3 linked regions of the Homo sapiens genome follow. The protein of the gene in region 2 interacts with the protein of the main gene of each other region in a biochemical or structural test. Each region holds a gene or a part of one and is shown on either strand. Other genes may lie near its edges. The genes, in order: GRK2, KCNIP3 and CREM.

The links.
Region 1: the proteins of KCNIP3 (region 2) and GRK2 form a complex in vitro, tested with the Homo sapiens proteins (one study listed by BioGRID).
Region 3: the proteins of KCNIP3 (region 2) and CREM form a complex in vitro, tested with the Homo sapiens proteins (one study listed by BioGRID).

Annotation. Positions count from the first base shown.
Region 1 is NC_000011.10:67,268,886-67,276,489, forward strand, and holds part of GRK2 (beta-adrenergic receptor kinase 1), read left to right. Parts: intron 1-7,604. UniProt on the Homo sapiens protein: Specifically phosphorylates the agonist-occupied form of the beta-adrenergic and closely related receptors, probably inducing a desensitization of them. Key regulator of LPAR1 signaling.
Region 2 is NC_000002.12:95,299,866-95,307,469, forward strand, and holds part of KCNIP3 (calsenilin), read left to right. Parts: intron 1-7,604. UniProt on the Homo sapiens protein: Calcium-dependent transcriptional repressor that binds to the DRE element of genes including PDYN and FOS. Affinity for DNA is reduced upon binding to calcium and enhanced by binding to magnesium. Seems to be involved in nociception.
Region 3 is NC_000010.11:35,178,625-35,186,228, forward strand, and holds part of CREM (cAMP-responsive element modulator), read left to right. Parts: intron 1-247; exon of another isoform or gene 248-264; coding exon 265-362; intron 363-509; coding exon 510-652; coding exon of another isoform or gene 653-705; exon of another isoform or gene 706-1,223; intron 1,224-7,604.

The sequences.
Region 1 (7,604 bases), on a different chromosome or scaffold from region 2:
ACCCCCATGCAGTCCTGAGCAGAAACAAGGTTGGATAGGATTCTAGGAGGACAGCAGGAGGCCGAGCCAGGCAGCCCAGGTTTTCACATTGGGTCACCATCAGCAGCATGGCCTTCCGCAAATCGCCCACATCTGTGAAACGGACTGGAGGTGCGAGCGCCGAATGTCAGTGCGCTAAGGCCTGGGAAGGGCTACTGGCCACCCCTACATGGGGGTCCAGGCCTGGGGCATTAGGGAGCAGGCCACCCTTTGCATAACGCCTTGCCTTGCACACCCAGTGGGGCAGAGCACGCCGCCCCCCGCCCCCCGCCGCCCCAGTGGTGATCCTGACCATGTTTCATGTTTGCCTGACACTTTTCCACTTGCAGAGTGCTTTTTACTCTGTTTTGTCCTTTTGACAACTGTGAGAGGCAGGCCCAGCAGTTAGGATTCTCCCCTTTAGCAGTTGAAGTTATTGAGGCTCAGGGAGGGGAGGAGTCGTGTCCTCGTCACAGAAGAAAGCTGGAATGGGGCCTCGGGTTTCTGGACCACACAGGCCAGTGCTGTTTCTTTGCTGTGCTTTATCCCCTCCACCCACCCCTGCACACCACTGTTCTCGCCTCTGTCCACATTTTGCGGTGTGGGCTGACTGGCACCCCTTGTCTGGGGCCATCGGCTGTCACAGTTCACAAGGCTCAGCCCTCTTCCCGTTGGCTGGGATGGAGAACTGAGCTGCCGTGGCAAAGCTACTGCACCGAGGGGCAGCCCCACTCCAGGGTCCCGTCAGATGCAGGAGCCTGTCTTCCCCATACCCACAAGGTCAAGGTCAGAGTCAGGGAGAGGGGCTGTGGCTTGTCCCAGTGACAGGTTGCCACTGGGAATTGTTCATACCTTGAGGTGGCCCACCTTGGCAGCCCCTCCATGGCTGGTGCCTGGGGATGTGTCTTGGCCAAGAACTGGGGCTGGCATCACAGCTCTGAGTTCCAAAGGCTAGGGAATGGGAGTGGTTAGGCACAGTGCCACACTGAGTTGGCACAGGGGCCTCCCCTTCTGTCACCCTATAGAATCCAAGGAAACAGTCCCTTTCCCCGACCTTCTTGTAGAAGGAGGTAGCGTAAGGCAGCATTGTGTATCTGGAAGATGGGAGGTCTGGCTTCTCCCTCTACCACCAGCTCACATGGGACCCAGGCGAGTCCCTTAGCCCGACTGGACCTGCCTCAGTTTCCACCTCTGTAAAACGAGGCGGCTGCCCCTTCACTCTCAGGGTCTGTGGTCTGGGCCTTGCCCTGAAGGAACTGCTGTCTCCCTTTCCCAGCAGCCAGCAGTCTTGTAATTATCATCATTTGCTTAATATGACCACTGAGGCCTCGTGTAATTAATCTCTGGGCTCCTAGCTGAGGAGCCCTGCCTGGGCGCTCCCAGGAGGTTCCTCTGCCCTCCCCGGTGACAGTGGCAGCCCCAGCAGCAGATTGTCGGAGCTGGGTGCCTCTTGCAGCCTCCCGATTTCTTGGCTGTTTCCTGGTCCCTCCCCCACCGAGAGTTTCCTCCTTCCTGCCCCTTTCTGGCTTCCCTGTCTCCCCAGACCCTGCCCCTGTTCCTCCGCTGCCTCGTTCCTGTTAACTCTTCGCAGCCAGAACTTCCTGCCCTCGATTTGTGGGGGAAGGGGTGCAGCGGGAAGCTCTCTCCCTCCCTCCTTCCTTCACTCCTGCAGCACCAGCTGAAACCCTGCTGCTTCCAGCCTTTGTCCCTTACCCAGAACTTTCCACTTCAGTGGCAGCGTTCTCCCAACTCCTTTCCCTGCAAACAAGATGATCTTTCCTGCAGTCACTCCCTCTGGGCCTTTGAAGCACCGCCGTTCCCCAGGAATGGGTCTCTGGGATGTCTTTCCCGTCTGTTTTCCTTTCCAGAGCATGCGTTTCACTTATTTGCCATTAAGTCGCCCGCCTGCCGTTACCTGGGTAAATGGATTTGAAGGGAGTGTGAGCAATGCAGGTTGGAATCTGTGCAGGGGAACCTGGGCTGTTAACCCAGAATGAGGTGTCCTATTAATGCACAATCAATTCCTAGTAGTAAGTTCCCGGTGACGTCAGGTACAGGAGCGCTCCGCAGCCAGTGTTTCCTCCCCGTGCCTAGGTTGCACCCAGGTGGGCTTGGCAGAGGGACTGAGTGCTCAGGCTGGTGGGTTTGGGCTCCACGCGCTTGGCTGTTGCTTTCAGGGTATGCTCTTGCCTCGGAACACACAGTGGGAACCAAAAGCACAGTGTAGCCCTTGAGGATGCACAGCCTCCCTCACACCTGCCCCTTCTTCCTGGGCCCCTTCCCTACTCCCCGCCGGCTCCCCATGGGTCAGTTTCCACTGCTGGATGGAGCTATATTCACGTTATTTCTACTCTGCTGCAACTGAGATACTAAAAATGAGGTGTTTGACTGCAGCTTTTTTCTAAAACAGTAATATCCCTTCTCTGCTTTGCTGTTTACTGCAAAAGGACGCGTCTATGCTGGCAGAAGTGGGTTTTCTGGTATTAACATGTTGGCAGCTCTGTTCCCAGGTGGGGGCAATTTTCTGACTCTAGAGCCATTTCGTGTTTGGGATGGGGGATAACCCCCTCCTGGAAACCACAGGGCATGGAATTCTGGAAGTTTGTTCTTGGTGCATTCTAGCGTAATGCAGATTACGGTCTCCATGTCAGCAGTAAATTGCAGGGTGTGGGTGCTCATGTCATATTTGTGAAGAAGCCGTGACATTTGACAAGGCCGCCAGAGTGCCTCTTCCTGAGCATCCCCGCAAGGGAGCTGCTTTGTGGCCGACACGACGTTCCGGAGCCCAGGCTGCTGCAGACCCTGGCTGTGTGTGCGGGGCCAGCTGGCTTTTTCTCTCCCCTGCTCAGGGCTTACCTTGGACCTGCCGGTTTGGGCTGGCCTTTCCTATTTGATCTGTGGCCCCGTCCTTGTTCGCCCCAGGGAGAGTCATTGAGAAACATTAAGAAGCCCCAGGGGACTTCCTTCTGCTGCTGGCACCTTGGTGTCTGGTTTCCTGGAAATGCCACAGGGAGCACCTCGGCCACAGCCACAGGCCCTGCTGCACTGGTTGGTGAATGCTCGCTCATCTCCCAGGGGACGGTTCCCAGAGTGGCCGCACCAGACCTGCCAGGCCTGTAGCCTTCATGCCAGCTTGCACCGTCCTGGCGTGGCAAAGCTTTAGCATCACTGTCACATGAGGGGCACAGGAAGCATGGCCCCTGGCTGCCAGCTGCCAGCCAAGGCTGCCTCCCATCCTGGGTTCCAGGGAAGGGGGCTGCTCGTCTCCTACAGCTCCTGGTCAGGGACGGGAGGGCAGCCAGGCCAGAGGCTGGGCACAAGTCAGGGTCCTCTGAGCCCTGCACCCAGCTCTTCCACAGAGGTCAAGGGGGGGATGGAGGGTGCTCTAGTGGAGGCCGTTTCTCAGGGAGCCTTTGGACATTTTCTTTGCCACGAACTCATTGTGGGCCTCGGAGCACGTGGCCCAGCCAGCTTCCTTGCCATCAGCAAGAGTGTGTTTGTCTCTGACTTGTCACCCCCTCCTGTCCACACAGCTACAGCCTCTGACCCCGAGCAGGAGACACCTAAGAGAGCCCAGGCCACAGAGGATGGCCTGGACTTTGCATTTCTTCTGAACCATGAGGTGCCAGAAGGGACCGGAAGTGCTCCCTCAGCACCCACTCCTTCCCTGTCACCCAGTGCTCAGTGCTGCAGCTGCTCACTGTCTTGGGCTGAGCCTGCTCCGGGAGCAGTAGGAGCTGGTGCAGGCCGCTGTAACTGCAGGGGTGCCAAGGTGGGACTGACTGCTCCTTCCCAAAGCTGGGTGGGCACCAAGTACCTCTGTGCCAAGGAGCCCTTGATACTTTGGCAGGGCAAGCCACGGGCTCTACCCACTGGGCCCGCAGTAGAGCAATGCAGTGCCTGAAGCTGGTCTGTGAGCAGAGGAGTCCCACCCTGCTCGGCTCAGCCCTGGCCACAGGCCCCATCCTCCAAGGCCCCATCCTCTCCGAGGACACGGCAAATGTGGAGCAGAGGCTTGAGCAAGACCAGTTACTGTGTGATTCTAGCATGGACTGTCGGTGAGCCGTGGGGCACTGAGAAATGGGGCTCTGGCGGCTCTCTCCCATGGCCCAGCAGGCGGGGCACGGCGGGCAGCATGGCCAGCCTGGCATATTAGAAGCCCTCCTTCTGCCGTGTCCACCCAGGCTTTGTAAATGGCCAGTGTGACGGTGGCGATTCAGCATCTCATTGACATCCTCATTTTACAGCTGGGGAAACTGGACATTTCAAGTTTGTGACCAGGTGGTGAGGGCCACTTGGAACCCAGGCACCCGTCCAACGGCCAGAGCAAAGGCAACTCTGAGGCCCTTGCCCAAAGGTGTTGGGAACCTTAGCGTCCTTCCATCTGGGACTGTTGAGGCCGCTTGGTTCTCCTGATGCTCCAGAGTAGATCTTGGGAGCCACGTTCCCCCGGATCTCAGGGTTGCTGACCTGGGTGGGGGACAGGGACACGCTCTGGGCTCACTGCCACTCCAGACTCTGCCAGTATCAGGGAGCAGTGTTGGAGACAAGGTGACCCAGTCCAGGAGGCTGTCCCACCCCTGTGCTCGCCCGTGCTTGCCACCCTGGCAGGAGCTGCCCCCAGTGGCAAGTTCTTCCAACCTGCCAGTTCCCTTGGCGGCCAGACCCATGGGAATAGACAGGAAACCCTAAAATTGCCACTTTGGGGGCCTTCCATTCAAGGACTCTGCTCAGGCCTGACCTCGTGTTTGGTTTCTTGCTTGGGGGGAGGGGGGTTGTTTATTTTATTTAAAAAACATTTTTTTCTTTTTAAGGAAGAAAGTGGAGTGCTGTGGGCTGGGAAGAATGTGGTGGCCATGCCCAGGCGTGGCTGCTGAGGGGAGAGATGGCCTCAGAGCCCCGGGTCCTGCTTCCTGCTGTTCCCAGGCCGGGGCTGACAGCAGAGCCCCTGGGAAGGAGAAAGGGCCTGCCCGGCAGGTTCCCCTGGCTGTCGCAGGCAGGGAACCAAGCATGCTTCCCCCTTGGAGACTTTGTGTGTCCAGTTGAAAAGTGGCAGTGGCTACTCCCTGGCTCCTAGGTGGCCATTCCCTCTGCCAAACTGGCACCTTTTTTTTTTTTTTTTTTTTTGAGACAGAGTCTCACTCTGTCACCCAGGCTGGAGTGCAGTGGCACGATTTTGGCTCACTGCAACCTCTGTCTCCAGGGTTCAAGCGATTCTTCTGCCTCAGTCTCCTGAGTAGCTGGGACTACAGGCGCACGCCACCATGCTGGGCTAATTTTTGTATTTTCAGTAGAGACGGGGTTTCACCATGTTGGTCAGGCTGGTCTTAAACTCCTGACCTCATGATTCGCCCGCCTCGGCCTCCCAAAGTGCTGGGATTACAGGCGTGAGCCACCGCGTCCCGCCAAGCTGGCACCATTTTTGCAGGCTCCTAAGAAGCAAGTCTGGGGCTCAGTGGGGCTTACTGCTGAAGCCCGGTGGCCCCCATTCCTGGGACAATGCCCGGCTCCTGGTGGGTGACCCCTACAGGCTGGGATTGCTTTGCCTGTCATCTGCATCTGCCTGTCGCTACCTTCCGCTTGACCAGCACCTTTTTTTTTTTTTTTTTTTTTTTTTTTGCTTTTTTTCATCCCCTTCTGTGGACCAAAATGTCCTGGCCCACCTCCCAGGTGAGATGCAGGCCCCTGACCTTGGGGTTTTCTCCACGTTCCAGTCTCCCAGTGCACAGCCTGTGCCCTGAGGGTCGCCCAGGGCCCAGGCCTCCTGTCTGCAGGTGCCAAGGGCAGGGACCGTGTCTTTCTCAATTCAAGAGATTTTTATGAAGCCCTTGCTGTGTGTGAAACACCACAATCTCCGTCCACCGTTTCCTGTGTCCCTGGGAGTCCCACATGCCGGGAAACATGTCCTTGACGGTGGCTGGTGGACATGAGCTGGCGTGTGGCCCGAAGGGGCGGGTGTGCTGGTGTGGACGCGGGGCCCATCCTCGGAGCTCCTGTCAGTTCTCAGAGGGCATCCTCACTCCCCGGTGGGGGGCATGGGCCCCCCTCTTCCCATCCAGGCAGGGTCTGTTCCAAAGCAGTCATAGGATGCGAACTCAGGGTCACCTAGGCCCATCCTTGTCTTCAGTGCCCTGCTTCCTGCTGGAGACAACTTTGGAAGAGGCCGCGGCCCCTCCCAGCCTCTGAGGGTGGGGAGCAGGCCAGGGGGTCGCGGCCTTGGAACCGTGCTCATGGCAGCCCTGCTGTGCTCGTGCTATCTCGCTCGGCCTTTCCTGAGGAAGGCTGGAACCAAGTGAGATCAGGGGCCGAGGCCCGGGAGTCCACTGCAGCCCTTCCTGGAAGGACAGTGCCCAGTGGAAGCGGATAAGAGCCCCCTCTCGAGGCCGAGGTCAGAGGCCAGGCAGGGTCCACAGGCCAGGTCCGCACTGTCTGGAGCTGCTCTCCGCAGACGGCTCTTCTGGCTGAAGCTGCCATTCTTCCAGACCCTCGGGCCCAAAGCCTGGAAGCCCTCACGGGGCTGGCCTCATAACCCTTCTCCCGGTCCCCGACAGCCTGAGCCTTCTCCCACCCACCCCCTTCCCCTTCTTCCTGCCCAAGTGTTGCCTCTGCCTGGGCTTCCTCCGCGTGGCGCCTCCAGTGGAGTCGGGCCACCCACCGCCCTGGACCAAGCCTCCTGAGTCCTGCTCTCCTGCCCACTCCTTGGCTGTGAAGCCCCCTGGTTTGCAAGGCCCTGCCCTCCGCCTCACCATGGCCTTTGTGTGCCCTCTCTCCTGCCCCATTGGCCCCTTGCTCATCCCTGGACATACTGTCCCCTGCCTGTTCCCACGTCTACCGACCCCCCTGGCTTCGCCAGCTGCCGAGATCCCACTTGCACTCCAGGAACCCAGTGGAGTTCCACCTTCTCCACACAGGCTTTCCAGACCCAGAGGCCTCCTCTCCTTCCCAAGGCTTCTGCACACGCTGTCTGGTATCACAGGCTCAGAACCATGCCCTGGGCAGGGCTGTTTGGAGCAGGGGGTGGCTTTGGCATGAGGTACACAGTGCCTCAGGGGTAGATGTGCAGCGGGTCCTCGTGACCACAGCCTGGGTGGCCAGTCCGACCAGCCCTGGGCTGGGCTCCTAGGGGCAGGCAGGGCCGGGGTGCAGAAAGGCAGGGGCCATGGCAAGCACAGAGAACCTGGACTTGCGGATCCAAATCTCCACCAGCTGCAGTCATTTCACGGGAGGCCTGCTGGTGGCCCCATAGACCTGCAGGGCCATGTGAGCGTGACATGGGCTCAGGTGTGTTGTCCCTTCAGGCCCCCAGCCTTGCAATGCCCTCAGCATGGCAGCTACACGTTACCCCAGGAGCCCAGACTAGTGAGGACCAGATGCAGGCCTCAGCTGGCTGTTGGGACAGACCGGCAGGGCTGGGCTTGAGGTGGGCCAGGAGAGGGCAGGAGGGGACAGTAAGGTGGTATTTGAGGCCGGGAGTGTAGCCTGGTGTGGCGCTCCCAGACAGCACTCAGTGTGGGGTGAGATAAACAGGGTGGGGGATGTCGGGTTGGGTTTTGAGGGTCACAATGGCCAGGCCCTCCCCTATGGCC
Region 2 (7,604 bases):
GAAGCCTGAGGGTACCAACGCCCATCTAGGACATTGTCTCCCGCATTATCTCCCTGGACCCTCACGCAGCCCACAAGGCAGCTGTTGGTATCATCCCCACTTCACAGATGGGGAAACAGAGGCCTGCCCCAGACTGCAGGCTACAAGAGTTGTGGCTGAGATTTGAACCCTGCTCTGTCTTACTCCAGAGCGCAGCAAGTCCCTAGGGCTTGGGGGTTGCGGAAGAAGACGCAGGAGGAGAAGGGCATGCCTTTAACCAGATGGCAGAGGAGGGGCCCATCCCAGCCGTGCGGCCGGTGGTCTGTTGTGCCCTCTGAGCCCTCCAGTGAGTGCACACAAGCCAGACTCCACCTGGCCGCATCCCCTGCGTTAGCCACGTGACCTGGAGCTAGCTGCCTCCCATTTTTGGACTGTGGATCCAGAGCTAGGAAGTAAAGGACCCCAACATTTTAAATTCAGGCTGCCTTGTCTTATCAAGACCTTCTGTGTGAGGCAGGGAACTGCTTTACTGACTTAGCAGAGGGGCCTTAGAGCCCCCCTGCCCTCCCCAGCCCACCCCTGGGCATCCCAGTGACTTCCAGGAGCAGCCAATGTGGCTTCTGCACGGAAGAAAGCACTCTCAGTTTCCAAGGTGAAGCAGAAGAGGGGAGAGAAGTTAGCACGTCTTTCTGGCCTAGTGCCCAGACCTGGGGCAGGCAGGAGCCTGAGAGTCGGGGGAGGGCACAGCATGGGGCGAGTCCCGTGCTGCTTCCTGCCCAGGGCTCCCGGCCTCAGCTGACTGATGTTGCCTTTGAGCAGGTGCGTCTGTCATCTGAGATCAGCCCATGCCTTAGAAGGCCAAAGAGCAGCCCTGTGGCAGGGAAAGAAGCAAGGGGACCTGCAGAGTTGGAGAGGGAGCAGCTGAGCTGAGACGGGAGGGCAGCGTGGGGGTGGCGTGTCCCACACTAGAGTCGGCCCAGCCTCCCCCTCTGACCTGCCACCTCAGCTCTCTGCCCAGCATGCCCTCTCCATCAGCCTGGCCATGCCTGGGCCAGGCTCAGCCAGGAAAAGCAGCTGCTGGTCTTTTCTGGCCTCACCTCCCAGCCTGCCCAACGCCCCCAGCCTTCCCCAGCCTTTATCACATGGACAGTAGGCAGATGCCAGGGTAGGCAAGGGACAAGTCCCCTGCATCCCAGTCCTCTGCTGCTGGTGCCACATGCCCCTGTGCCCAGCTCTGTCGTGGGATCCTCTCTCAAGATGGGCACTCTGGACAGTGCTCCAGAGAACCAAACTGTAGCCCCACCTCTGCCCCACTGACTCAGGGCCTCAGTCTTCCCATCTGGGTCTGAGAGATGCTCACAGCATCTGCCAGGCCTTGTGATGAGCAGTGCAGGGCTGGGAGGCACGGGCCTGGCTGACTCAAGTCAGGGCCACTGCCAGCAGTGCCCCACATGTGCACACAAATGTCCATGGGTCTTGCGCAGAGCCCTGATCCTCACTGTGCGGGACTAAAGGACCCCGGGCAGGAGACAGGCATGGCCAAGAGGCATCATGGCTGTGCCTTGTTGGCTGTGAGCCCTGACTGCACCAGCAGACCTGGGCTCAGTCCAGGCCCTGTCACACACTGGCTGTGTGTCCTCTGACAGGTTACTTAGCTCATCTGTGCCACTGTGTCCTCATTTTCCTGGGGGAAGTATGAATATCACAGAACCCCCAGATAAATGTGATCCTATACCAACCAGCTTGGCCTGGCCCCTGGCACAGAGTGAGGCCTCCACACATGAAGGGAATACCTATGCCATCCCTTCTGACTGTTGAGGAGAGCCTGGGAAGGCCACCAAGAGGCAATTTGGCCATGGGCAACTCAAGTTCACCCCTGGGTTAACGTGACACCCTCACTGCCAGGCAGCATGGGGAGCTTGTCCTTGTCAAGGTGGCAGCCATCAGAGCAGGGGTGGACAGCCCAGCTCTCCTGCTCCAGTGCTGCCAGAGGGCTGGGGCCCAGGGCTGTGTGTGTGTGTGTGTGTGTGTGCGCGCTCATAGGTGTGTTTGCAGGCATGTGTACGTGTGTGTGTATGTGCATATGTGCACACATGCATCTTCAGGGACTCATGACAACCTCGGCTCCCCCGACAAGGCGAGCTGCCTTGCCTATGTCTGTCTGTGCCCAGGGGTGGGTGGAGAATCCAGGCTCCCCAAAGCTTCCCCATTCCATACCCTGGGGCCTGCACGACACAACGCCCACCACTGCTTCCTGCCATCTGTCCCGAGTGATGGAAATAGAGCCAGTGACAGCAAGCAGTGCTGGGTGGGCCAGTCTGCACCGCAGCAGCCGTGGACAGGGTGGGGGGTGGGGAGCCCCACATCTGAGTAGCCTGGATGTCTCATGCTGGCCCTGGCCTCGGTGAAGCCCTTCCGGAAAGGAAGGGGGTGAGAATCGGGGGACCCCCTTTGCCTTTCAGGCAAGGCCAAGAATTTTCTATCTGGAGGGACAGACACTCTAAACAAATTCCCCAAGCTGCATTTTCAGATCTATTGAGGAGCTTTATAAGAACAGAGTAGCCCAGCCCTCTCTGCATCAAACAATCCAGCTCCTGGGCAGGCAGATGGTGAGAGCCTCCCCACGTGATTCTGGCATGTGGCAGCTGAGAGCGGCACATTGGGCCTCCCTGCCAGGCATGCTAGGCTGTGGGTTTGGACAGCCAGACCCTCCCTGGGATCAGAAGGGCGAGGAACACTGACTCTCCCCCACTGGGGGCTTTGTCACCTTGCCTTCCCCTTAACCCTGTGAGGGCACATTGTCACCCCCATTTTGCAGATGAGTAAACTGAGGCTCGGAGCTGTCAGGTTCTCTGTCAGGGTCACCGAGCTGGGAAGCGAGGGTGCGGGATTCATGTAACTGGTTGGCCACAGACCCCTCCCACTGTCCTCGGCTGCTGGAAATCACATCCACCTGCCTTCGATCTCCTGCCCTGCCCCCAACTAGCCGTGCCCTCTGAGCCCACACCCAGGGGCCCTGGTGGCACATACGAAGCCACTCACTTCTGTTTTGCATCCGTTAAGTCTGTAGACATCTGGGAGGAGTCAGCGATGCATCTTGCCCATGCATGTACTCCTAGAACGCCACCCGGGAGCCTGGATACTTTAACGCAGGTTTTCCAGGACCCCCACTTCTCACAGGCTGTCATGTGCCCCCCAGTCACCTCTGCCACATCTGCTCTGGAAGGCTTTCTGGGAGTTTCTCTGGAGCACAGTTGATGAGAACCATGGAGACTGAACTAGCGGCTCGAGGGTTTCACCTTGGCACACTCCTGACAGTCTGACTCCATCTTCTCAGCCAGATGGGCCTCCTCAAGACGAAGCTGTGCCATGCTGGGCATGGGGCAAGGAGTGGGACGCTGCTCCGTGGGCCACCTGGCCTCTCAGGGGACCTAGAGTGTAGGGAGCCACGAGGCAAAATGTCCGGTCCAGGTCCTGGAGGTTTGTTCCAAGTGCTCAGCCTCTGTCTGTGGTGTGGAAACTCTCGGGATGATGGTGTGGTGTTTGCGGCAGAGACTGGACTGTGTTCAGGGGGAGAGGAAGGCATGGGGGACAGCCCTGCCTCCTACATTCCCGCAGTGACAGTTTTCTCAGGCACTGGGAAGTCGCCGCCCCTCCCTCACTGGCCACATCTAGAGTAGGTCCTGAGTACCTGTCTCCATAATATCCCCAGCACCCAGCCATGACCTCCGCCTGGCTCAGCCTTCCCCCGCTCTCCTGGGCCTGGGCATCCCTCGCCTCCCCCAGATGGCCGCCTGCCTCATCGAACCCCCAATCTGATCTGCACATTCCACCAGGCCACCCTTCTGAGGCAGCTGCGAGTCCAGCTGGACTTGAGTGGCAGAGAGCAGCTGGGGCGGCTGTGCCCTGCCAGGAGGATGCTGCCCCAAGCCTGCCGGCTGGCAGGTCTGAGAACCATCCGGATCAGTCCTGTCCAATAGAGACATGATGCAAGCCACAGATGTCACTTAAAATGTGCCAGTAGGCACAGTAAAGAAAGAAAAAAAGGTTAAATTATTTTAACCATATGTTTTATTAAACCCAGTGTAAATGATTATCATTTCAACCTGCAATTGATATAAAGCATTTTTAATGAACTATTTGATAGTCTAGTAAGTAAATGTTTGGAACCCAGTGTGTGTTTACACGAGGGCACGTCTCAGTGTGGACCAGCCACATGTCAGTCTCAGCAGCCTGGCGAGAGGCCGCCGTCACTCAGACTTGAGGGGTCGCCTGGCTGAGTCGAGCAAGCCCCCAGCCTCAGCCACAGAGAGAAACATACACTTCCTGCCTTTACCGTTTTGCTGTATCTGTTGTGACCTGTGCTATTGTTTCTTATTATTTTTCTTTAAATTAACTCATGCATTGAATTTTAGTGAATTCATTTAAAAGGGAATCTTTAAATCAGTACTGTAAGTGGGAAGCCGGGAGCAGAAGTGGAAGGTAACCACCACATTGCCATGAAATAAGGCAGCAGCGATAAACTCCCACCCATGGTCTGTGGCCTGTTGAGGCTCTGAGCTGAGGCCGTGCCCTCCCTTTGTAAAGAGAATGGCAGTGGGGAGCTGGAGAGTGTGCTGGCCCCGAGTCTAAGTCATCTCCTGCACCTCGTAGGTGCAGCTCCCCACTGCCAGAGACCTCAGGCCAAAGCCCCCAGGACGCAGCTGACTCAGAACAGGCTGGGTTTACCCCTGTTGAATAACAGGAGAACGCATACCCCAGGGACCCTGGCAAGCTGCATGAGAACGGGTGAGCTAGAATCCATTACCGGATTTGGGGCTCAGTTGGGTGCTTTGGGTAATTTTGAGGTTCTAAGGAACCTCAAAAAGTTGGTGTGACCATTAAATATGATAACCCCTCCAAACAACTAACTCAGCACCAGCACACAGCAGGGGCATCACCCACGCCATCTTTTTCCATCCCTCCCTGGCTCCCCACAGGCCAGGAGGACTTAGAAGGAAGTTGAGGCCTGGTCCTGGCCTGCCTGGCTGGGCAGGAGCTACAGATCTCGGCCACCAGGTGACTGGCAGAGAATGGCCTGCCTGGCTCACCAGCAGCCTCTATCCTTCAGGGAAACTTGTGACCTTTGAGAAGGCTGCAGGTCCCCAGGGCCAGCCTAGGGCCGTTTCTGGGACACAGCCCTAAATGCCCACACTGCCAAGTATGCCACCAGGGACTCTGCCTGAACCCAGGGCCCAGATCTTCTGGCTTCACTCGTCTCTGCCACTCAACCCTGGCCATCCTCTAAAGCTGGTAGACAATGACAGTTCTGTCACCCATTAAAATGAGGCCGGCATCGAGCAGGAGTGGGAGGAGAGAGCCCCAGGTGAATTGTGAAGAGCACAGGGGACTTTTGATCATTCGTGAATATTTATTCAGAGCCTTGTGCATGCTTGCGTTTTTAACACCTTCTTTTTGGGTGCATGAGAGTATTTTTTGATGGAAATCTTTATTGAGCTCGTTGTAGATTCACATGCAGTTGCAGGAGCTCACAAAGAGGGCCCATGTACACTTAACCTGGTTTCCCCAATGACAGCATATTTCAAAACTACAACACAATAGCACAACTGGAGTGTCTGCAATGATGCAACCCACCAGTCCTAGTCCGATTTCCCAGTTCACACGCACTCATTTCCGTGTGCATTTTTTGCTACAATTTTTATCACGTGTAGGTTCAGGCACTCAACAGCACCATCAAGATGCAAAACAGCTCTGTCCCCTCAAGGCCCCTCCTGCCGCCCTGTGAGAGCCACACCCCTCTCCCTCCTGCCTGCCTCCCCCCATCCTTAACCCCTGGCCCTCTAATCTGTTCTCCATTTCTAAAACTTTGTCATTTTACAATGTTATATAAATAGAATCACACAGAATGTGACCTTTTGGGTTGGCTTTTTCATTCAGCGTAATTCTCTGGAGGTTCACGCAGGTGTGGTGTGCGCCAACAGTTTGTTTGTTTTACTTGTCCAGAATTCCGTGGTATGGATGCACTGGAGTTTGTTTAATCATTCACCCATTGAAGGGCATTGGGTTGCTTCCAGTATGGGGCCGTTCCAAGTAAAGCTGCCATGAACATTTGTGTACATGTTTTCACTTGAACATAACTTTTCGTTTCTTCAGGATAAACGGCCAAAAATACCGTGGTCGGGCTCTGTGGTAGCGCATGCCTAGTTTTTATAGGAAGCTGCCAGACTGTTCTCCAGAGTGGCTAAGGCGTTTTCCCTTTCCACCGACAATGGAGGGGTGATTCCGTTTCTCCACATCCTCACCAGCTTTCAGTTGTCATTATCTTTGGTTCTAGCTGTTCGGACAGGCACATGGTGGTGTCTCACAGCGGTCCTCCTCTGCGTTGCCAGAATGGCTAATGACGGCGAACATCTCTTCCCGCCGCCTTTGCCATCCACGTGTCCTCTCTGGTGAAATGTCTGTGCATGTCTTTCACATTTTCTAACCTGATGGTTTGCTCTTTTACTGTTGAGTTTTGGGAGTGAGGATCTCTTGGGTGCCAGGCTGTGTCACGAGGAAAAGCAGGTCACATGAGGATCAGGTTCCACTCTCGCAGAGCTGATGCGCTAAAGGGGAGAGACAGAAAACACAATAATAGGATCAGTTCACAAGGGCTGGGTGAAGAAGTGCTGAGATGGAGGTGCATGGGGGAGGGTGGCCTAGGTAGTCAGGCAGGGCTCTTCTAGGACCTGAGCCGTGAGTGAGGCCTTAAACGCCTGGGGCAGAAGTGTCCAGTGCCAGGAGCAGCAGGTGCCAAGGCGGTGGTGTGGGAGCAGACTTGGAGGGGCACGGTGGGGCTGTCAGGGCCTGGCAAGGAGGCACTGGGGCTCCCGGCAGGGTTGGGGCATCTAATTCATGTTCCATCTCATCACTGCCCCAGCTTCTCTCCCAGCACCAAGGCACTGTGGGGTGAGGGGCCAGGGGGCCGCCTCTTAGGACGCCCTCCCTTCCATGCTGTGAGCCTCCCAAGCCAGCAGGAGGGTGCCTGGGCTGCTATTTAACATTCCCTGACAGCTCAGTCAGACCCTCTTCCAGACAGACAAGTGTCAGATATTCATGAGGATGACCTCCTCCCGCCTCCCCAGCAGCCTGAGGGCCCAGGCCGCAGCCTGATGAGTCCCAGCTTCCCAGGCTCGGCTGCTGGGGTCTCCCTGCCCTCCTGTCCCTGGCCCTCCCCTCCCTTCTCTTCTCAGAACCCACCCCCTGCCTCACAAAGAGGGGTGCCCATCATGGGCCTGCCTTGTGGGGCTCACAGGTGGGATTCTGGCCCCTCAGCCAGATGGAGGAGCCTGGCCCGGAACCCCCACCACCACTCCACCCAGACTCTCTCCACAGGGAGAAAAGACACACTGGGGCCCCCTAGCCCAGGAGGGCATCACAGCACTCCTCAACGGATATTTTTGGAAGGCTGCTGATGTGCCTGAGGGGCTTCGGAACACACCCAGCTCCAGAGACCGCCCCAGGGACCCAGGCCGAGAAACAGCCTCAGCAGCAAAGCCTGTGGTCAAGCCCATGTGAACTTTGGAATCAGAAGACTATATGTGTAGTGTGGCCCTGGCATGTCCCAAAACTTCTCAGGGAATTAG
Region 3 (7,604 bases), on a different chromosome or scaffold from region 2:
ACCACTCTTTCCCTAGTATTTCTGTAGTATAGAGTACCCGTAACATTCCTTTCCACACACATTTGTTTTATAACTGAAATGTTTGCGTCTGCGCTTCCTTTCTTGAGCCAGACTCCTTCAGTGCAGATTCACTGTGTTCTATTGCTCAGTTGCTTCCACAGCTCCTGGCTCAGTGCTGCACACACAGACTCTTAGCCTCAATTTTTTGAATGAGGGAAAAGAGCATATATTTTATGATACATTTCAGAAAATCTTGTATTATAGGTAGCAGCAATTGCAGAGACAGATGAATCTGCAGAATCAGAAGGTGTAATTGATTCTCATAAACGTAGAGAAATCCTTTCACGAAGACCCTCTTATAGGTAAGTTAACCAAGTTTCCTAATGTAAAGATACTTTTTCCAAAATGGTAGAATAATTATACATCAAATCAATTCTTCCTTTATAGCTTTTCTGTTTTAAGACTTATTCATGTATCTTAGTGACTTACCTTGTTAAATTGTATTTTAGGAAAATACTGAATGAACTGTCCTCTGATGTGCCTGGTGTTCCCAAGATTGAAGAAGAGAGATCAGAGGAAGAAGGAACACCACCTAGTATTGCTACCATGGCAGTACCAACTAGCATATATCAGACTAGCACGGGGCAATACAGTATGTATGCTGCAATTCGATATGATACAGTGCTAGCTTTAAGTCTTCTCTAGTTATATTGAAGCAACTCAGGTTTTGGCATTAAATTGTTCCATTTTAAAATGCATCATTAATACCTAAACTGTATCATAGAATGAAAGTATATGTTAAAAAGTGAGATCTTTGTATTGACAGCTGTCATATAATTTTGAAAAGTAAAAATTTTGACTGCCGAATATAGAAGAAAATTTTGGGGTAAAAAGGAGAATTTTTCCTATTTACATGTTTATATTAATCTCTAGTAAAACATTGTTTTTGTTGTCTTTATGATGCATGCGAACATAAATGTCTGTATTTCATTCTTGTTGGCTTTTGTTACCCACAATTACATACTATTCTTACTAATCTGAGAGTTTTCTAAAGTATGTTTTCAATGTTTCACTACTCTCTACTCTGTTAATTTGTGCTACAGTTTTTCCTAAAAGAGAATGGAAAAATGATTTAATTTTTTAAACTGTAGCAATTGGATAGATAATTTTATTTGAAATTTTACACACTGAAAGCTCTAAATAAACAGATACATTCACATTCAGTCTTGTGCATTTTAATGGACCGTTAATTCTGTGCTTTTTGCTCTGATTAAAGCACTAGTTTTTTTCCCAAAAGAAGAGTGTTTGATACGTAAAAAGCAAGAGCTAGAAAGAAAAGAAAAAGGAGGAGAAAGGTTAGGGATATCACATATCCTAAGCTAGCCCCTTAGGTACTGGAATAATGTGATATTCCTGTCCTTTCTGAAGTATAAATTGTCCATGGAAGTTGTCTAAATCAATTTCCCATGTAATTATAATATGAAGTAAAGTGAGTTTTGTAAACTCTGCTACCCTAGGTCCTCAAAGTAATTGAACAAATATATTGACAGCAGTCATGTTGTTGAAGAGATTCATAATTTTAGTTTTCTGACTTTAAAAAGAGCTACTTAGGTACTGGAATATATGTGATATTAAATAATGTGTTTATCCAAATAAGGTATTAAGATTTTAGATATATTCTTTGTTTTTCCTTTAAAAAGTAGCAATACCAAGAAAAAAAAACTCAAGTCTTAATTTAAGTCCTGACTACTAAAACAAGCTATAATCTTTAATGTATGAGAAGACTTTATATAGTCATTATTTTTGTGGAGCTTTTTAGAGTTTTTCTTGTAGCAGTGGTAGATTTGCAGTAGTAAACTATTAAATACATTCTCTGTTGGTAATTGAGGGGAACTCCTACCATGATACCTAGCAGATCCGGGGTGTAGTGTATTCACACGTTTGACAGGGCACCCAGTAGACTTGTCCAAAGTCAGTGTTAGGAAAAGAAAATCCCCACCATCTGTAAGAAATAGACCTTGAGGTTTACATTGTCATTTTTTTATTACTTCTCTCGTTTACATGCTCTTTTGTCTGGCACACTGGGAATCTCTGGTGGGTTTTAGAACTGTAAAACTGAATATGCCAGCTGATGAGCCTCTACAGCACAGCACGCAGGTTATGAGAGTGCTGAGTGCCTCGTCCCCCCGTCCCCAGAGGGGCTGGGCAGAAGCTGCTGGCGCCTCCTGGCTGGTCAGCCCTGGCCTTGAGCAGCTCCATCCACTCACCCCAGTGGGCTGTACACATGTCATCATGTTCTGTTTGTGTAATGACAGGGAAAAGGTTGGAAGTGACTGCTGAAATGACACTAAGACTTCTCAAAGTGTTGGGAACCACTAAGATGCTGTCATCGTAACATTTCTCTGGCATATGCTAATGCTACTTAGGACTTCTGATAGAAGCAGTGATTCCTTTACAAGTTGATAGGGAAGCAGATGCTGTAGGGTTAACTTGTCTAGATTATTAGCTGAAAATTTGAAATTGTGAAAATGTATGGGGTTGAAGCTGGAGAGGATGTGGAAGGAACCATCTTTGTGCCATTTGCAAACTCAATGATCAGAGCAAGAAGCTTTATTAAATTCACATCTCAGGTTTTAGTCTTTGAAGTGGGAATAATACTAAATTGCCAAACTCTGGGGTTCCTGTGAAGACAAAGGAGATAATGGGTAAAAGTAGGGGGAAAAAGACATGCTACTATTGGCATGAAACAGAGAAATTAAGTTAGGTGTACCATTGTCTCATTCATGTTCATTGAACTTTCCCTCCAGCCAGCCCCAATGGCTTCATTCCCTGTGTCCTTGGTACCTGCTCACAGCAGGGGGCTGGCCTTAAACCTCACTCTGTGTGTCTGTGGGGGGGATGAGAGGAGCAGAGTCAGGAATTTTGGTTGAGAACTAGAAAACTGCATCTGTAGAAATTAGATCTTAGGCCAGGTGTGATGGCTCCCACCTGTAATCCCAGCACTTTGGGAGGTCTAGGCAATGAGGGTTGCTTGAGGCCAGGACTTTGAGACCAGTCTGGGCAATAGAGTGAGACCCTGTCTCTACAAAAGAATTTTAAAAATTAGCAGGGTGTGGTGGTATGCGCTCATCCCAGCTACTCAGGAGGCTGAGGTGGGAGGATTCTCTGAGCCCAGGAGTTTGAGGCTGCAGTGAGTTATGATTGCACCACTGCACTGTCCAACCTGGGCAGCAGAGTGAGACTCTGTCTCAAAACAACAAACAAAAAAAACACATCTGTCTATTTGCCACATAAGAGGTCATGGACTATTTCTTACTTTGGTTTCTTAATTTGAGTCTATACAGTATGATCCTAGAAATTATTCTGATGAGAAGTTATAGTTCTGTATGTACAGTCTGCAGGTAAAAATTGCCATTTGTTCACACAATGTGAATTTCTTTTGTTAAAAATGCATTTTGGGGACATTTAGTGAAATATATGTAGATAATTCTTTGAGAAGTGAATACTAACAACATTCAAACTTTTTAGAAGACGTTTACTTTAATTGGAGGGTAAACATACTTACACACACAACATCCATTTTTATTGATCTTATTTTTTATAGAACTAACTTAGCAGATATTAATGCTTTAATGTTGTAGCAGAATGTCTAGAAATGGAAACAATTGCCAGTTTCCTTTGGTTTTTGAATAGAGGAACGTATTTTATTAGAATTTCTGGAGATTTTCCTATTTTTTTCCTTCCCTTTGAGCTGTAAATTTTTTTTAATGCTCTTTCATAACCTTTTATTATAAAAAAAAATTTTAGGTTTAATTGTTCAGCTTTTATCCATGGATGGCTTTCTCCCAAACTTTGCTTTTATTTCTTTTTTTCCAATATTTTATTAGTTATTTTTAATTTGGAATAATGAGTTAGCTGGTGTTTAAAAGAACTAAATGTGTATCAAAGTTGAAGAAATAAAGTATATTCAAGTTTTCCCATATACAAGCAGTTACATTTTTAATAGTTGAAAGATATTTGGCAGAAGTTGGCCTTATTATATTGACTTACTATTATCACAAAAACTAAAAAGTGAAAGTTGGAATAGGCTGCTCCCTGGGGAGTAGGAAAAAGCATAAAATAGACAGGGATCCATTATTACAACACCAAGTAAGTGAGCTGTACCTGCAGAATCCTCACTGGAAGTACAGATCTTAGTGATAGGTGTGTTGCATAACAGTTGAGCTGGTCGAAGAAAGTCTTTTATTTCAGAAGCATATACCCGAGAGATGGCGGGAGAGAGACAGCCTTAGAATTAACAAAGAATGTTACTTGCTGCATGAGACAGTTAAGATAGGCAGTAAATGAGTGAATTTGTAAAAGCAACCGAGGAAATTAAAATGTTTGAAGCTTCCTAATTCATTAAATTTCCTCTTGAAACAAAGGTTACTTAAATCCTCCATCCTACTATACCCAACCTCTTCCTGTACCAATTAAAGACTATCACCCAAGACTTCAGTTTTTTTCCCACAAATGGCCCTTGTCTCTGCTTGTGCCTATTGTATTTTACGAGGAATCTTATTAGAGTATTAACTCATCTTTCTGGAATTCTTATACATGAAAGGTAAGTGGGTCAATCTAAACTGCACCATTATGAAAAGAAAAATATGAACTTTGTGGACTCCTTATAAGAATTCAGAATTCTCAGGAGGCTCACGAATAAGCACCAATTCAACTTCTTCATAAAGGGAATTAGAACATAATAGGCTTACACATTCGAAAGTTAATCCAGTTGCAGTTCTTAATAGTGACGTTGTTTACATTTCTCTAAGGCAACTGTTTCAAAATTTTTTAAGGCACTACTTAATGTAACTCTGGCTTTTAAACTTTGATGTTGCTATTGTTGTTATAGCATGATTTAGTCTTCCTTCTGCTATAATGCACCTCTTGGCTTTTAAGGTACAAGTACTCATAGGTGCTCTCTTATGGTCACTCTGAATTTAAACCTGAGAATTCATTGGAACAAAGGTCTGTTTGCTGCTGTTTTTAAAGTTAATGCAGTGAGATTTCATTTATGAATCTTTGGATTGCAATTTGGAACAAGAGTGGTTTTAAATATAAACATTTACATGTGTATGTATTTTAATTAGCTCATGTGTATAAATTTAGGATTAGAAGTATATAACATGGGCCGGGCGTGATGGTTCACGCCTGTAATCCCAGCACTTTGGGAGGCTGAGGTGGGCGGATCACCTGAGGTCAGGCATTCGAGACCAGCCTGGCCAACATGGTGAAACCCCATCTCTACTGAAAATACAAAATTAGCCGGGTGTGGTGGTGCACACTTGTAATCCCAGCTACTTTGGAGGCTGAGGCAGGAGAATCGCTTGAACCCAGCAGGTGGAGGTTGCAGTGAGCTGAGATCACACGATTGCACTTCAGCCTGGGCGAGAAGAGTGAAAGTCCATCTCAAAATAAATGAACAAATAAATAAATAAGAAGTGTATAACATCGCCAGGCTTGGTGGTTTGTGCCTGTAGTCCCAGCTACTCAGAAGGCTGAGGCAGAAGGATTGCTTGAGCCTAGCAGTTTAAGACCAGCTAGACCAATATCAGGATGTGGGGCAACACAGCAAGACCCCATCTCTTAAATAAATAGCTAAAATAGAAGATATGTCTAAATTCATTCAGTTAATTTCATCTTATTTTTTCTATCTTGATTTATGTTTATTGAAAGCACATGTTATGCTATCCTTGACTATTTTGAAACCTAAACAGTTTTCTCCTCAAATCTCTGAATACAGACAGGCCCACGTAAAACCTATTTCCAGGATCCTGAGGCACTGGGAAATTTTGTTTATTGTCAGATGAGAGAGAACATTTTCAATGGGAAGGTCCTCTGTCATTTGATAACAACAAAATCAAGAGCACCTTTGGCATAAAAATGAAAATGAGGCTGACGTGCCTGACTTAATCAGTAGAAATGTTTTCTCACTAGAGCCAGTGTGTGAGGGGTGTGTGTGTGTGTTTGTTTAGCTTTTGTTTTCCATATCTAATTATATAATGACTTCCCCAGAAAATAAAATGAGAAACAGATTCTTGATGTGTCAGCTGTTCATATTGTGAAAACAAAGTTTTTTGATCAGAACTGTGGGGAAACATTACTGAAAAGAAAAAAGGAAACGAGTAAAGCAAAAAGAAAGAGAAAAAAGGAAGTAAAGGTCTTTGTTATCTACCTATTTAGGGGTTCTTACCCTGAGGCAGCTACTCTCACCTCAGATTGACTTGATCGTTATTTAAAAGCTTGATAATTTGGTGTTGAAAAACTAGGTTCTATGATTGGAATTTGAAACCATACCTCATTTAACTCTCCTAGATTCACAGGGGGCTTAAGTTTTTTATAATATCATCTGTCATGAGGAAATGATAGCCATTCATTCATTCATTCATTCATTCATTCATTCTATTTTTTGAGTGGCTGCTCTGTTCTAGGCTTTGTACTTCTTTTTTTTTTTTTTTTGAGACGGAGTTTTGCTCTTGTCCAGGCTGGTGTGCAATGGTGCAATCTCTGCTCACCGCAACCCCCGCCTCCCAGATTCAAGCGATTCTCCTCCCTCAGCCTCCCGAGGAGCTGGGATTGCAGGCATGCACCACCACGCCTGGCTAATTTCTTGTATTTTTAGTAGGGACGGGGTTTCTCCTTGTTGGTCAGGCTGGTCTTGAACTCCTGACCTCAGGTGATCCACCAACCTCGGCCTCCCAAAGTGCTGGGATTACAGATGTGAGCCACCGCGCCCGGCCTAGGCTTTGTACTTCTAATACACTGTGGTTACCTGACCTTGGGCTGCTCTTTCTAAAGCACTATTTCTGTGACATCAAACTAATTATCAACTGAAAAATACACATTCAAATATATGAAAACATACACAATTTACTCATGTCTAGCCACAAGGGGCCAAGAAAGCAGTGTCTTTTGACATTTTCATACTTGTAAGAAGTTAGTTAGATCTCTCTCAAACCCTTTTACTATGAGGGCTGAATCCTGAGACCCATGAAATCTTTGGAAAGCCATGGTTTAAAAATACCCTGTTTTTAAAGTGTGTACAGAAAATAACTGCTCTAGGTGAGCCAGATAAAGTGCTGTTACATCAGGGTGTCTCAACCTCAGTTCTATTGACATTCTGTAACTGACTCTTCAGTTTCTGCCACACTGGCCTGTCAGTGAAATAAAACACAGAGAACGCAGCATGTGGAAGTCTTTTTAAAAATGTTAATCTATCTTCCTGTGTAGACACTGGCACCTTAGGTGAAAGAAGTGAAAATTTGTTGTTGTTACTCTTTCCATAATTCTCATAGGTTTGTCCTATCAGGTTATCGCCTAAGTGCTTTTTTGCCTAGATGCCTTTAAAAACGTTTGGAAATGACTTGAAAATATTCAGAGTGTATTTTAAACACTACTGTTACGCTACTGTAAGGTATTTACATTGATGTATAGATGTCATGTTATTCTGGTGATGTGTTTTTAAAATCTTCATTGTAAAGCCTAGTTAGCTAGTTTATATGTGATTTTTTAAAAAGCATAGCCTCTGGTACCATTTAATATCTACTGTTTGAAGCATGCAGTTG